Linked DNA regions of Homo sapiens: regions 1 and 2 are each reported to be linked to region 3. The links are microRNA targets in miRTarBase. Many come from high-throughput screens and were not tested one by one. Region 3 holds a microRNA gene; each other region holds the end of a gene's coding sequence.

What was found. The annotated mature microRNA hsa-miR-548x-5p reads UGCAAAAGUAAUUGCAGUUUUUG and lies in region 3 at 2,121-2,143, shown strand. An mRNA with a match to its seed (bases 2 to 7 or 8) in the 3' UTR can be bound and repressed. Matches are read on the target gene's strand: a 7mer-m8 pairs with bases 2 to 8, a 7mer-A1 pairs with bases 2 to 7 and ends in A, and an 8mer does both.
Region 1: miRTarBase lists MKX as a target of hsa-miR-548x-5p. Seed matches in the 3' UTR shown: 7mer-A1 at 3,073-3,079 and 7mer-m8 at 2,364-2,370.
Region 2: miRTarBase lists CD209 as a target of hsa-miR-548x-5p. Seed matches in the 3' UTR shown: 7mer-A1 at 3,908-3,914.

What each region holds. Positions count from the first base shown.
Region 1 is chr10:27,670,729-27,675,959 of GRCh38, forward strand. MKX (mohawk homeobox) reads right to left here. Exons shown (of 7, transcript NM_173576.3): 6 at 4,793-4,826; 7 at 2,146-4,687. The coding sequence ends at 4,501. Among named protein-coding and RNA genes, the nearest start is that of MKX-AS1, 71 kb to the right of the region's middle.
Region 2 is chr19:7,738,724-7,743,954 of GRCh38, forward strand. It overlaps CD209 (CD209 molecule), which reads right to left. Exons shown (of 7, transcript NM_021155.4): 7 at 1,270-4,517. The coding sequence ends at 4,316. It also overlaps the pseudogene LOC100129391. Among named protein-coding and RNA genes, the nearest start is that of CD209, 6.2 kb to the right of the region's middle. RefSeq lists an enhancer at 4,725-4,824.
Region 3 is chr21:18,683,047-18,688,277 of GRCh38, reverse strand. It overlaps MIR548X (microRNA 548x), which reads left to right and starts at 2,114; the gene lies at 2,114-2,188. All of the region lies in intron 2 of MIR548XHG (MIR548X host gene), which reads left to right.

The sequences.
Region 1 (5,231 bases), not on the chromosome of region 3:
TTGTTTAAAAGTCAAAAATATCTGTCAGATTAGACTCATTGTAGGTCAAATTTCCAGAAACTGGCTTTGGACTAAAATTTGTTGTAGAAGACCTAGTGAGACCATCTTACCTGGGGTGAATTCGCATGGAGTCATTTGTACAAAATGTAAAAACACCTCAGCTTTTTTTTTGTTTCCAAACTCAGAAATCTGTTTTTCCTCTCCTTGAGAGAAAAAGTTTATTGTGGCCAATTCACACTTCTCCCAAACCAAAGTTTTAGTCCATCTCTAAGATGGGTCTCAAAGCTCGGAGTGGTGAAGTCAGGATTCTACTCCTGCAGTGTGGCAATCTATCTTCTAATTCCAATCATAATGGTTACAAAGAAGAGCAGGACTGACTGGGCACGGTGGCTTACGCCTGTAATCTCAGCACTTTGAGAGGCTGAGGCGGGTGGATCACCTGAGGTCGGGAGTTCGAAACCAGCCTGGCCAAGATGGTGAAACCCTGTCTCTATTAAAACTAAAAAATTAGGCAGGTGTGGTGGCACATGCCTGTACTACTCGGGAGGCTGAGGCAGGAGAATCGCTTGAACCTGGGGGGGCAGAGGCTGCAGTGAGCCGAGGTCGCACCACTGCACTCCAGCCTGGGCGACAGAGTAAGACTCCATCTCAAGAAGAAAAAAAAAAAACAAAAAAAACAGGACCAAGAAGTTCTTAGTGCTCACAAGGACCCAATGATGGTGACCCTAACACACATTTGACAGAATCTAGGGGTCCTATATGCTTCATGGAAACTACAGTTTACAGTGCCAGAAAGTGTGAGACATGAGGCCTTTTAGGGCTGCGTGGAATACGGTCATAATCGCTAACATTTGTACAGTGCCATGCAGTTTGCGAAGTGCTTTTATATCGACTGCCTCATTGACTCCCCACAACAGATCGTTGGAGTAGGTAAATTTCACAGGTCTAATTTTATAGGTGCAAACAATGGGTATAGAAAGAAGGCTTATGCTTATTTCCCAAAGGTACTAAGAAGTGAAGTAGCAAAGCCAGAGCATGCCAGCCCAGGTTCTTACCACCACAACACACCGCCTTCCAAGGCATGACTTTCCTATGCCATCCCTGGCAGGACAGCATGGGTGGCTTGCTCTTCTTCTCTGTGTTTATTTGCATGCTGTGACACCACTGAGCTGGATAAGTTTAAAAGCAGGCTATGGCTGTTGCCACTGTTTGTTAAACATTGCTACTTGGAGCAGACGGAGAACACAGGCAGCAGCTTGAGTTTTTCTTAGCCATCTTGAACAGTATCAAGCAGGACAAACAGAGGGAAAGCAATTCTTGTTTATCCCAAAGAAGGAAGTGACAGCACATATCGTGTTTTCTGTTGGAATGTCTGTTCTGCCTTGGCTTCGCAACGCTTTATGCTTTTTGCCTGGAAGTTTTAAGTGATGATGCTAAAATGATCTTCCTTGAAGGCCTTTCTAACTCTGATACCAATTTTCACCATTGCACAGCAGCTTTTCTTGTCAGGCATCTCTCCCTCTCTACAGCTGTCCATTAAACTACCCATGTCTTATGTTCCATTTATTTTAAATATTTCTACTTTCTTGTGCATAAAGCCTGAATAGAGGAATTGTAACTATGCAATAATATGTTCCAGTTACCAAGCACCTATTATCTGACAGACACTGAGGTAGGCACTTTATGTATTGCATTTTATCTCAATCTTAGTGCAAACCCTACAAGGTATAGCTCCTTACTCCCACTTTGCAGATGAAGAAACTAGATAAGAATGACTAAGTAGTAAGGGACAGAGCTGAGATTCAAAGGTAGTTCTGTCTAGCTTCAAAGCCAAGGTTTTCTCTCCAGTGCAGAGCACACCACAAATAATGCTAATTGTATTAGTGAGGGAAAGAAGGTATTACCTGAAAATGTTCATTTTAAAGTTAGGTATTTTAATAGTCGGCATCACACTCCCTTTTCCTCAGTCTTTGAAAGCTGGATTGGTGGCCTAAGGTGATGAAATTCAAACCTAATACAAATGCAGCACTCCCATATCATATCCCTTAACAGTCTAAGGAGAATTGCTGAATATAATGGGCCCGTCTGTTCTACTGCTTCATCTACCTGGTCAGCTCTCAAAGGAAAACAAAATCCATACGATCATCGAGGTCTAGAAATTAACTTTTATTTTAAATCTGTCAAGAACTCCTGGCAGTTATTAATTTTATTAAAATGATTACATATGGCAAAACAAAGAATAGAGGTAATTCTATTTCTCTACAACATAAATTATGAGTTAGATTTTCAGCTGCCGGCTCAGCATTGTTCAAGATTCTTTTAAAGGACTGGGGGGATTTTAATATCCAGAAAATGTTAAAGCAGCAAAAGAAAAAATAAATTAAAAAGTCATTGCAATTGGAGATATTACCAAGGATGTGCTTACTATAAAGTCTTCTTGACATGTTAATTATAAAATCTTCCAACCTTTGGTATTAAAAAAAATCATGTGAATAGTTGTCCTATATTGCCTTGTCATCTATAATTTATAACATAGAAGAAATTTGCTGATTTTTTTAAAAAGATGGCAAACATGAATCATGACTCATTCAAATAAAATACAACCAGCATTCATTCATTTAACTGAAATATGTCAAAACAAAAACACTTTTATTAACATATTTAATACCAGAATAACTTATAATAGTATGAAAAAGAGTGAAGTATTTGTCTTTAGTTTTCATTGACATGCTCACATTTTGGCATTTTTGTATTGTTTTGCAAAGATTCCAAAGTTTTTATCAGAGATCTCTAACTATTTAAGGATGCAAACCAAAAGAACTCATACTTCATCTGATCATACAGTCATAACTTATATATTTTGCTTTGCGCTTACTGTTACTGCAAACAGCAATTTAGAAAACAAAGTAAAAATATATATATATACACAAAATATTTTTATATCAAATTATCTTCATTACACTAAATAAACCCAATCCCCAAATGTTATGTTACATGAAAAAGTGTCCTACAATTTAGATCAAGACTGATACTGTCCATCAACTAGAGCAGCCTTTGGTTTTAAAAGCATTTTGCAAAATAAAGAAAAATGTCACCACTGGCTGCACTATTGACCCTCATTCACACTGACAAAAATGCTTTCCAGTTTAAAAAAAAAATAGATTACATACCCAGAAAAAAAAAATCCCATCATAAAAAGTCAAACCCTTTTTACTTCTCTGTAGCACATACCCTCTGTTATATTTGGCATTTCCACTGCTTATTCAAGTTTCAGGTCTTCCCAAGCTGATTGGAATATTATTGTTTAGTTGAGAAAGATAGTCTTCTTTCTTGATATTGATTATTCTCACTCAATGGTAGACTAATTTAGAAACAAAATGTTTTCTTTCAATGCATGATTTCACTTCATTTTTACTTTAATGTCCAACTTGGCAAAATTCAAACTGTTCAATGTTTTGTTTTCCATATGTTTTAAATTTAAAAATCAATTTTATGTATGTATATGTATAGCCGCACAGAGATACATTTCTTTCATTCTGTTGTTCTCGCTGCAATACAAATTGTCCATCAGCAATTGTAATTTGAAACAAACCAAATAAAAGATTTTTAGTCATTCCATACGAACACAGTTTCCATCACAAAAAGACAGTGAGCTCTAATGCAAACAGGATTATGTTTTAAAACTACAGGTTTAGTTTTACACAGGAAAATTTTGAGTTATTTGTATAATAAAGTTTTTTTTTAAACTTCAGCAGAACTTGAGAAACAAATCCAGATTAATTCTAAAGGGCTTTGTGGTGCTTTCCAACAGTGCTTGAAAAAAAGTTTTCCTGGTCACCATGTGTTCAATGAAATTTTAAATTAGCTTGAAGGAATCACTTCTTAAATGTACAACGTTCTGTGGATCGCTGCACCTTGAATTTTGGAAGTTTGTAACATATCAAATATGCAGGCAAGATACATGCATAAAATTCTCACCGTCACTCTGAAAAGCACATTGAACAATTTTCAATAATGTAGACGTTTTTTAAAAGGAAGATTTCATTTGGGCTGAACAGATATCCAAGTTTTAACATATGAATTATTGAATGTATTTCAAGGGCTTTCAGCGATTCTGGTTTCAGTCCTGGAATGATTAGGCCCGTCTGGAATGATGCACACAGGCTAATAAGCATATGGCGTTGGCATTTTGAGGCATAGCTTGTTCAACTATGCCCACGTTGGAGCTTATTGTCGGGAAGCAAGGCACTTACTGTAATGGTAATGCAGATGTTTTATGCATAGTTTGAGTAACATAAAATAAGTTAATATTTTTGATTAAAATGAGTTTTTTATAATTTATATGTCTTTTATAGAAGCAACTAAATGATATATTTGGGATAATTAAAAATAAGAAGAGGTTTGGGAGAGAGTCATTTTCATCCCTGCTTCGGCTCTTAGGATGAGGGTTGATGAAAACACCGGAAAGAACATCCATTGGATCTGAAAAGCAACAAGCTCTTAAAACTGCTGCACCAGCGGCACTTTGACAGTCTTTACTTCTGCTATATGGGACGACTTCTGGATGATGCAGCTGGTAGTTCCCTGCAGTTTGTCCTTTCCCTGTGCAAGATTTGTTAAGGCCATAGCTGCGTTGATCTCCTTCCAATACGTGTCATCCTTGCTTGGTCCTTTTCTGTTAGCTGCGCTGGAGTTAAGCAAAACAGAAAGTAAACGATCAAACTCACTGCAGTTTGCATTGAAAATGCCATCGCTGAAAAGCAGGAACGGCCAATGGGAACATTTTGCTCACCTTTCACCCTTATTGGATCCGTTTTCCAGAGTGTCTGTAAAGAAAAGCAAAAATTCAATTATTTTTATGTTTTTCCTTTCTTTTCTCATCTCAGGAGTTTCATCACTAATGACCAGAAGTAAAAGTTCTTCAGGAAATATGGTTGAAAATTAGTTCGCTTTTAATAAAGATAAAGCAGTTTATATTAAGATGCAAAAAAAATTGCAAAGGGGCAGAAGTAAGATGACAGTGGGTAGTAAAGAATAAAAGGTAGCTCTCATAGATACACAAAAATCTGAAGTTATTTACTCTGAGAAATTGGGCCTTTTGGATCAGGAGACAAACAGCATAAGGAAAAGAGTGCTGACTGTACCTGGGGCCAGGTTCTGGCCTTGCCCTACTACCCACTTGCAGTGTAACCTGGGGGCAGATTATGACCTCCCACAATGTCAGGGATTCA
Region 2 (5,231 bases), not on the chromosome of region 3:
AACTTGACAAGCTCATTATTTGGAATATAATAAAGAGGTTATACTCTTTAGTTGGGAATAAATAGCAAAGCTACAAGTGGGGACAGTAACCTCTTGAGATGGGAAAACGGGGACGGAATGAGCTTTAGTTTTCACTGTAGAGATTGATACGTTTTGGTTCTGTGTGCACACGTGACTTATTCCACAAGTAAATGAAAACCTTTAAAGCCAGAGTAGACTCAAAAATCATCCAAAAATTGCACAAGAATACCTGAGAACATTTTGATAGAGAAGAGCCATGACCAGGCAGGCCACAGCGGCCCAGGCCTGTAAACTCAGCACTTTGGGAGGCTGAGGCAGGAGGATGAGTTGAGCCCGGGAGTTCAAGAACAGCATGGGCAACACAGTGAGACCCCATCTCTACAAAAAATTTTTTAAAAGTAGCTAGATATGGTGATGCACACGTGTGGTCCCAGCTACTCAGGAGGCTGAGGTGGGAGGATCACTGGAGCCCATGAGGTCAAGGCTGCAGTGAGCCATGATTGCACCACTGCACTTCAGCCTGGGTGACAGAGCAAGACCTTGTCTCCCACATAAAAGGAGCCATGCCTGGTAGTTATCAAAATATAAGCTTGGCTTGGGTTTCCCCTACTAAAGAGCTTGAGACAAGGATTTGGATATAAGTAGCTTATCTGGGAGGAGATTCCAAGAAGCATCAGCAGGGGATGGGAAGAATGAAGAGGAGCAGGTAGGGAAAGGAAGGAACCCAATACAAAGGCACCAATGAGCTGAAAAGGGCAATTGGGTCCAATCCCCCTGGGAGCCTCTGGGAGACGACATAGAACAAGCCTCACAGTTCCTCTGCCTGTTGAAGGTCAACTCTTAAGTAAGACGGAATTTAGCTTGCAAGCTGTTTATGAAGGTGCATCTTTGGGGTCAACATCAGTAGAAAGGAAGTGATGTTTGTGGTGTCTTATTTACACCAAAGAAATTCTCTAATTCTAACACTAGCTTCCTGGAGTTAGCACCACATTCCACAAATTAAAGGGCTAGGTCCCAAAAGACTGACCCTGCTTCAGATGCCAGGTGCAAAGACAGTCTTTGCACTGTCTACCCACACTTCTGCCAGGCTGGCAAAAAATTGTGGCTTCCCATAAGTCCATCTCAAGTTCAGTAATTTCCTAGAATGATTTAGAGAACTCGGGAAAACATTTTGCTTATGTTGTTGCCGAACTAAATTGGGTCAGTTCCCTGGCTCACAGTGGAAAACCAAACACTGAAGCACTGGGGTTTTGTAGAGAGAAAAATTTATTGCAAGGCAGCCAAGCAAGGACACAGGAGTCTGGCCCAAATCTGTCTCTCCAAGTTGGAGGCTGGGGCAGATTTTATATACAGAGGGTAGTGAGGCATGATATGATTGGATCTTGTAATGAGGGGATTCAGGAGGCTTGATCTGACTGGATCACGCCAGGGCTCAATCTGATTGGATCAAGGATCATGCCACGTGGTGTCCACTTCTTAACTCAGTCCCTGTTCCTCGGTCTGAGCACTTAGGTTCCACGTGGATTTGCACGCTTCGTTCATCTGGACATGCCCAGGGTATGTAACTTGCAACCTGGGGGTCCACGACAACTGAAAAACAACTCGCCATTTTATTACACAAAGTTGAACCAGATTGGGCTGAATCTGCGGTTACAATGTTTACCAGTTTATTATAAAGGATACAACTAGAGGGGCGGGGCGGTGCCGGCAAGATGGCTGCGCCCGAAAAGGTGACATTTCCAGAGAAACCAAGCCACAAAAAGTACAGGGCCGCCCTGAAGAAGGAGAAACGAAAGAAACGCCAGCAGGAACTTGCTCCACTGAGGGACTCAGGACTCTCACAGAAAGAGGAGGACACTTTTATTGAAAAACAACAACTAGAAAAGCTATGGGGAAGAGAGAGGCAAAGATTACATGAGGAGTGGTTGCTGAGAGAGCAGAAGGCACAAGAAGAATTCAGAATAAAGAAGGAAAAGGAAGAGGTGGCTAGAAAACGGCAAGAACAAGAGCGAAAGTTAAAGGAACAATGGGAAGAACAGCAGAGGAAAGAGAGAGAGGAGGAGGAACAGAAACGACAGAAGAAACAAAAACCGGAAGCTGTCCAGAAGATGCTGGATCAGGCTGAAAATGAGTTGGAAAATGGCGCCACATGGCAAAACCCGGAACCCCCCCTTGGATTTCAGAGTCATGGAGAAGGATGGAGTTAATTGTCCCTTCTACAGTAAAACAGGAGCTTGCAGATTTGGAGATAGATGTTCACATGATTTCCCAACATCCAGTCCTACCCTTCTTATTAAAAGCATGTTTACAGTGTTTGGAAAGGAGCAGTGCAGGAGGGATGACTATGACTCCGAAGCAAGCCTGGAGTACAGCGAGGAAGAAACCTACCAACAGTTCCTAGATTTCTGTGAGGATGTGCTGCCCGAGTTCAAGAACGTGGGGAGAGACTGGGCGCGGTGGCTCAGGCCTGTAATCCCAGCACTTTGGGAGGACGCGGCGGGCGAATCACGAGGTCAAGAGATCGAGACCATCCTGGTCAACATGTTGAAACCCCGTCTCTACCAAAAATACAAGAATTAGCTGGGCGCAGTGGTGCACGCCCAGCTAATTTTTGTACTTTTAGTGGAGTCCCAGCTACTCGGGAGGCTGAGGCAGGAGAATCGCTTGAACCCGGGAGGCGGAAGTTGCAGTGAGCCTAGATCGCGCCACTGCACTCCAGCCTGGCGACAGAGCAAGACCCCATCTTTAAAAAAAAATAGTAATTAAAAAATAACGTGGGGAGAGTGATTCAGTTCAAGGTCAGTTGCAACTTGGAACCTCACCTGAGGGGCAAGTATATATGTTCAGTACCAGTCGGAAGAAGAATGCCAAGCAGCTCTTTCTCTGTTTAACGGACGATGGTATGTACGCAGGACGACAGCTTCAGTGTGAATTCTGCCCAGTGGCTCGGTGGAAAATGATGATTTGTGGTTTATTTGAAATACAACAATGTCCAAGAGGAAAACACTGCAACTTTCTTCAGGTGTTGAGAAATCCAATAGAGACCTCTGCTTGTCTCCTCCTTTGGCAAGAGCTCCAAGGGGAGAGAGAGGGTGGGCCACCACGATGAATACTACAGGCTGCGGGGAAGGAGAACCCTAGTCCAGACCATTCCTACAAAAGAAATGGGGAATCCGAAAGGAAAAGGAAGAAATCTCACTAGCACATGTCAAAGAGCCAGGAGAGGCACAATTCACCTAGCAGAGGAAGAAATAGTGACCGCAGCGGGGGCCGGTGCAGCCGCAGTGAGAACGGCCGGAGCCGTCACAGCCGGAGCCAAAGCTCCTCTAGATCCCAAAGTCGTGGTAGGAGGAGATCAGGTAGTAGAGACAGAACTGTTCAGAGTCCCAAATCCCAATAAACCTGTTTTATTCTTACAAAAAATAATAGGCCAGGCGCGGTGGCTCACACCTGTAATCCCAGCAATTTTGGGAGGCCGAGGCGGGCAGATCATCTGAGGTCGGGAGTTCAAGACCAGCCTGACCAACACGGAGAAACCCCATCTGTACTAAAAATACAAAAAATTAGCCGGGTCTGGTGGCGCCTGCCTGTAATTCCAGCTACTCGTGAGGCTGAGGCAGGAGAATCACTTGAACCCGGGAGGCAGAGGTTGCAGTGAGCCAAGATCGCGCCATGGCACTCCAGCCTGAGCGACAAGAGTGAAACTCCATCTCGAAAAATAGTAATAATAATAATAAAATAAAGAATACAACTTAGAAACAGCCAAATGGAAGCCATGTATAAGACAAAGGAAGATGTGGGGGTGGAAGGGGTTGCGTGGAGCCTCCATGCCCTCTCTGGGTGCCATTGGTTGACTGGGGGAATTAATTCCCTGGTGCTTCCAGCCTGCAAAATGAGCTCTTGCAACCAGTAAGTCCCCGATCAAAGGGGTGCAGGAGGTGGTAGGTGGAAGTTGAACAGATGGTAGGTTTGCATGTATAAGATAACGCCCCAGGGGACATAGCAGCTACACATGGCAACCCAAATATCCTAATCTCCAAAAGGAAGAGAGAGTGGATTCTTGGAACACAAGTCCACCCCCAAAGGCATCCCACACCAGCTCACTCATAAAGCTCCAAGGATGGGCCAGAAAAACAAGCTCTACACCAGGGGAAATTGGAGGCATGACAAGAAGGACAGAATGGGACCCAGCCTTCTAAAGGAGGAAGAATCTGACAAAGAACAGTCCCAGAGATTTTGTGAAGGTCGAAGGATGGAGAGAAGGAACTGTAGCTTAAAAGGGGGTGAAGTTCTGCTACGCAGGAGGGGGGTTTGGGGTGGCAGGGGCTGGAGAAAGAAACTGTTCTTCATCCCTGGAGCAGGAGGCTGCGGACTTTTTGCAGATCCAGAATTTGGCAAGATTACATTTGTCGTCGTTCCAGCCATTGCCACTAAATTCCGCGCAGTCTTCCTCCCCAACGTTGTTGGGCTCTCCTCTGTTCCAATACTGCTTGAAGCTGCAAAGCCCATGCGGAATGTGAGCCTCTGTCCCCGCCAGCTACATGAGCTGTGTTTCTACCTTCTGTCATCTTGATGCCTTAACATCTGCCCTGCGTGTGTATGCTGGACTTGAATCCCTCTGCATACCTGATAATATGCCTGACTCACGATGCCTTGAGTTCCTGCCTCTCTTCTCACAACCTGTCCTTGGGTGGACTCCACCTATTGAGTGTGTGATTTTCAAATACAAGCCAACCAGTCTGGAGTCCACACCTCCAGCGACCTGCCTTACTGGGCTCTTGTACTCCAAGCCACTATCCTGTACTAATCACCCCAAGGCCAGGTGTCAGACAGCGAGGGGCAGCCCCTGTGCCCCAGAGCCCAAAAAATGCTTCACACTTCCCAATCCTAAGCCTGTTCACCTGGCCTTGACCTTTCCTTTCCACAGAAACCATAATAAAGGCTCTGGCCCACAGTCCCCCCTCCCCACCACTCTGACTCATAACAGACCCTGGTGCTTCCCCAGGTGGCCCCCAGCTGTGATGTGTCCTCTCTCTAGGGATCTGTGTATATGAGAAGCTATTCACAATGGCAGGTGTCTCCTGAGCTGGTGGCCTTACTGGACCTCAGACTTCCTATTAATACATTATATTTTAATACACCTCCCCGGTGGCAGGCTCCTCCTGCAGCTCTGCTGGTGGAATTCTAGGCACCTGCCATGCTGTCTGGAA
Region 3 (5,231 bases):
GTGTTTTTCATTGTTTCCTTAAATAGACTTGATCTTTTACTATTTGATTTGTAGCTTTAAATAATACCCTTTGACATCTAGCAATTACGATGATGTAATCAGAAAACTAACTTTATTTTTTATCTTCTTATCAAAGCCATCTGTTCCGTTTTGTGTTAGATGAATTATTTCCACATTATCAGAGCATATACAATATATAATCTATTCTGTCAACTTTAGCCTTTCTTTCATTTATTTGTTAAATAGCAATTACTCCTTTCCACCTGGAGTTCATCCCCTCATAATGTTGTCAAGGAGGCTTCCGCAAACAGTATTCACAAAGTTTCTTGCATGTTCAAAATGTGTTTTGTTTTTAAACTTCAAGAGCACCTGCTTTGTCTGACTCTTTCTTTCCTAAATTATCATAGATTTTTCTACACTCTCTCTCCTGGGTAGAATGTGGTTGTGGTTGTGACTATTTCACATTATAAAATGATGACTGTATAAATTATTATACAAACTAGAAGGGGTTTTGGAGTGAAATGGGTCAATATCATGGTATAATAATTATACCAGCATCATAGGCATAAAATCTGACTGTTTTGCACCAACTGTAATAAATGGAGTTTTGTCCTGAGACCAGCATGATATGTGTTATTTTACATTATCCCTAGACAAGTTGATAACCACATGGGGAAATGAGACAGGACATGAGAGGAGTCCAAAAATGAGTATGATAATAGAAAAGTCCTGCAAAGAACAGCTTTTACTCAATCCTTCAAAAATAGTCTATTCCTGATTAGAGAAAAAGCGCTTGGAGTATTTAAGCCTCTACACACATCTCTCAATGTTTAAGAGCTGTTAGCAGGAGAACAAAAGTTCGGAGATAATAGTTCTCCAATTCTGTAGACAAATCTGATTCTGGCTACTTGTGCATAGTACATAGTACATGGTGCTAGAGAAGCAGGTACTTACTATGGGGAATAGAATTACATGGGGACTTTATGCAAACAAATGTTTAAGGAATCTGATATGATATGAGTGACACACTAACAGTACACCATAATGCAGGGGAGACTTACTAATATGGTTTGACTGCATCCCCACCCAAATCTCATCTTGAATTGTAGCTCCCATAATTCTCACGTGTTGTGGGAGGGACTCATGGCAGATAATTGAATCATGGAGATGGTTTCTCCTATACTGTTCTCCTGTTAGTGAATAAGTCTCACGAGATCTGAAGATTTATTTCCTCTTTCACTTGTCTGCCAAGACAATGTAGACTTGTCTGTCTACATTCTCTCTTGTCTGCCACCATGTAAGACGTGCCTTTAGCCTTCTCCATGTTCGTGAGTCCTCCCTAGCCACCTGGAACTGTGAGTCCATTAAACCTCTTCTTTTTTATAAAGTACACAGTCTTGGGTATGTCTTTATCAGCAGTATGAAAACTGACTAATACACTTCACTGTCAATCTCTAATTTTCAAATTGTGGCTAGTTACAATTTCTAGGGGAAAAAGTTATACGAAAAGTGTTAGTGGCAGGAAAAAAAGACTCCATCACTTGTTAGTCCAAAGGCCTTAATTGGTATTTTTATCTTACTCCTCTTCCATCTATTCTTGTATACCTCTTGTATATGAGCATGTGCAGACATGTTATAAGTTAAGGTTTCTTTTTTGTCTTTAAATATACTTACATTCCCTCTGGGATAAAATTGTTTAAAAGACTATAATTTTTCTCATTGAATAACCATGGAAATACTTTCAAAAATTTAAGCACATAAAAAATGACATGTTTCTGGATTTTCTATTCTGTTCCATTATCTATACATCCAGTTGTAAACCTCAGCCATACTACCTCTATGACTGGTGCCTAAAAGGAGTATATAGGGAGTCTTGGAAGAAAAAGGTGCTGCTCATCTAATTTTGTTCTTCTTCCTAGAAATCATTTTGTATATAATATGTCCTTTGGATTTCCATATAAAATTTAGAATTAGCTTAACAATTTCTACAAAGAACTTTGCTACAATTGTTTTTTAAATATGCATTGAACATATAGATCAATTTGGGGAGAGATACTATCATAACAACATTAAGCCTTCCAATCTGTAATCACATTATACATTGCAATATATTAGGTTAGTGCAAAAGTAATTGCAGTTTTTGCGTTACTTTCAATCGTAAAAACTGCAATTACTTTCACACCAATCTTAATATTTCGATCTTGTTTTATTTTTCTCAGCAAAGTTTTGAAGATTTCAGTAAACAGGTATGGCATACATTATGCTAAGTTTATTCCTGTGTTCATGTTTTTAACGTTGTTACTAATGGCATGTGTTGTATTAATTTTTATCTTTCTCATATTGCATTGGCAAGAATGTTGATGCAATATTGAATTTCAGTGGTTAGACTGGATATCTCTACTTTGTTCTAGAACTTAGAAGGAAATAATTCGTTTTGTTCATGTAGGGCCAGCTTCATGCACTGTACCTTGTACAGTCATACAAGATTTCATGCTCAGAAGTGCCCTGTTTTTGATTTAACACTCTCTTATTACTGCCTTAAATTTTTAAATAATTTTACCTCTGTGTTTTAAAAGTGCAGTATGATGGGACACTTGAGTACAAGTGTGAGCAGAGATGTCTGTGATATACATGTTCAGTTTCTTACTGTTCTATTCACATACAGCGTTTGTGATGCCACGTGAACGCAGAATTCTTGTGGACCCACAGTGCTTGAAAGTTCAGCAAGACTCTGAGTACAAGATAAGCATTTTATGTCTATAAATGAGTGAGCAAGGTTGACAACTCCAAGAGGCTACACTTTCCATTCAAAACCAGAACTCAATTCAATTGCAAACAAGCAGTGACTTTCCAATAAACACAAACAACCATGGAACCCTATTACATAATTTATTTTCTCTGTTACTTTACTGCATTATTTAACTACCTATGCTGAAAGTGACACAGAAGGAAAGGAAAAGAAAGAAGGAACAATAGTTCTTTTTTTTTGTCCTTGCTTATTACTTATTCCATCTATTTTTGTTGTTGCTTTTTACTTGCTCTTTGTCAGTCTTTTATTATTTTTGTATTTCATTTTAAATACTGTTAATCAACTATAACTATTTTTATGGTTGTTTTGTGTTCACAATATATATCCTTATGTTATTAGTTTATTTTAACATAATACTGTACCATATAAACACACAGTATAAGCAGCGTGTTATGTCCCAAAAACGGTTTCAGAAAATGAAAGGAAACTTCTACATTGGTAATCATTGTTTGATTATGTATACCTTAGCTTCCATCAAATAACAGCTTCCTTGCTTAAAAACTGTAATAGTTCATCTAGTTCAATTTAGTTAGTGATAAATTCCTCTAACTTTTGTTGTTGGGAAAAGTATCAGTTTTACCTTGATTTGTTGTAGATATTTTACTCTATATAAAATTCTAGATTGATGGTTATTTTTCCTTCCTACTTCAAAGATATTTTATTGTCTACTGCCTGGCATAGTTTCCTTTTTTTTCTTTCTTTTTGCTTTCTTTTCTTTTCTCTTCTTTCTTTCTTTTTTTTTTTTTTTGAGACAGAGTCTCAATCTCAGACAGGCTGAAGGGCAGCATCATGAACACAGCTCACTGCTTGACCTCTCACACTCAAGCCATCCTCCCACCTCAGCCTCCTGAGCAACCAAGACTACAGGCGCAAACCACAATGCCTGGCTATATATATAATTTTTTTTTTTTTTTTTTTTTTTTTTAGAGACTGGGACTCACTATATTGGCCAGGCTGGTCGCAAACACCTGGGGTCAAGCATTCCTCCTGTCTTGGCCTCCCAAAGTGCTGGGATTTCAGGCATGAGCCACCATGCCCCGTCCTGGCATACTTTCTAATGAGAAATCTGTGAACATAGTTATCTTTGATTTTCTATACACTATTACTAGATGTTCATCCACGGCATGTGTGGTTTACATTGTGCAACAGATTGAAGCAGATAAAAGCCATTGTCTGTACATCATACTTCTTTCTAATACATGCTCTGCAATTTTCCAGCCAAACCCACCTGTCTGAAATTCTATCTCTATCTCCTCATATCAAGGAGATTGTCATGCTGTGCTTTGGATACCTCTCTGCATCAAGTTCAAGAAAATCCCTTCAGACAGAAAGTCAGAGTAATAACCGAACTTACATCAATTTTCTCTCTTCTCTTAGAGTTCATAGTTCTGTGCTGCTTATGGTAAAATATCTGACAATTTATTAGTTCTACGTTTTATCCTGTTTCCTATTTTTGTAAGGCAAACAGACAAGTTCACATCTGGTTATTCTACCATAGTTAGAGGCTTTAAATTTTTATTTTAATACACTTACTATGGTGGCATTTTAGAGTTCTGTTTTTTTAAATTTTTGTCTTCTCCTCCTCCCTCTTCCACACCCTGCATTTCTGTTTGTCTACTCTTTGACTGATGCATTGTTCCAGCTCAGCTTTGAGCACGTTGGTTCCTACGCTATATGATGCCATCTTCTTCCTGGGAGCGCATTTTATTAGGTGATTTCTAAGTTCTCTTCCCTCCTTGTCTCTTTGTGTCATAGCAATGCAACACTTTGCCTGTTATGGATTGAATTGTGTGCCATCGGCGAAATTCATATGTTGGAGTCATAATCCTCAGTACCTCAGAAACTGACCTTATTTGGAGATAGGGTCTTACAGAGGTAATCAAGTTAAAATGAGATCATAAGTTCTGCCCTGATTTAATATGACTGAAAAGGGGGAAACTTGGAGAAACACACACACACACACACATACACACATCTCCATGTGAAGGAGTACACGGTGAAGATGGCCATCTAAAAGCCCAGGCATAAGGCCTGAAACAGATTCTTCCCTCAGAGCCCTCAGAAGAAATCAACACTGCTGAGACCTGATCTTAGACATCTAACATCCTGAACAGTGAGACAGTGAATTTCTGTTGCTTAAACTATTCAGGTTGTGATACCGTGTTACGATAGTCTTAGGACACTAATACATCCCCCTATAAATTTTAGAAGAGAAGCAGGAAAATTCAAAACTAAGCTACCATCATTTTTCTTCCAGAATATCTTATTATAAAATATATGAAAATTTTCACAACATAAAGCTTTACAGTGGATGAAGGCCAACCAAAACACATGCCTGCCCGTGCACATGTGCATACACACAGAAAACTTTGGGCATTACCTTAGAAATCTGATAAGTTTCTCACTTTAATATTCAACTCTT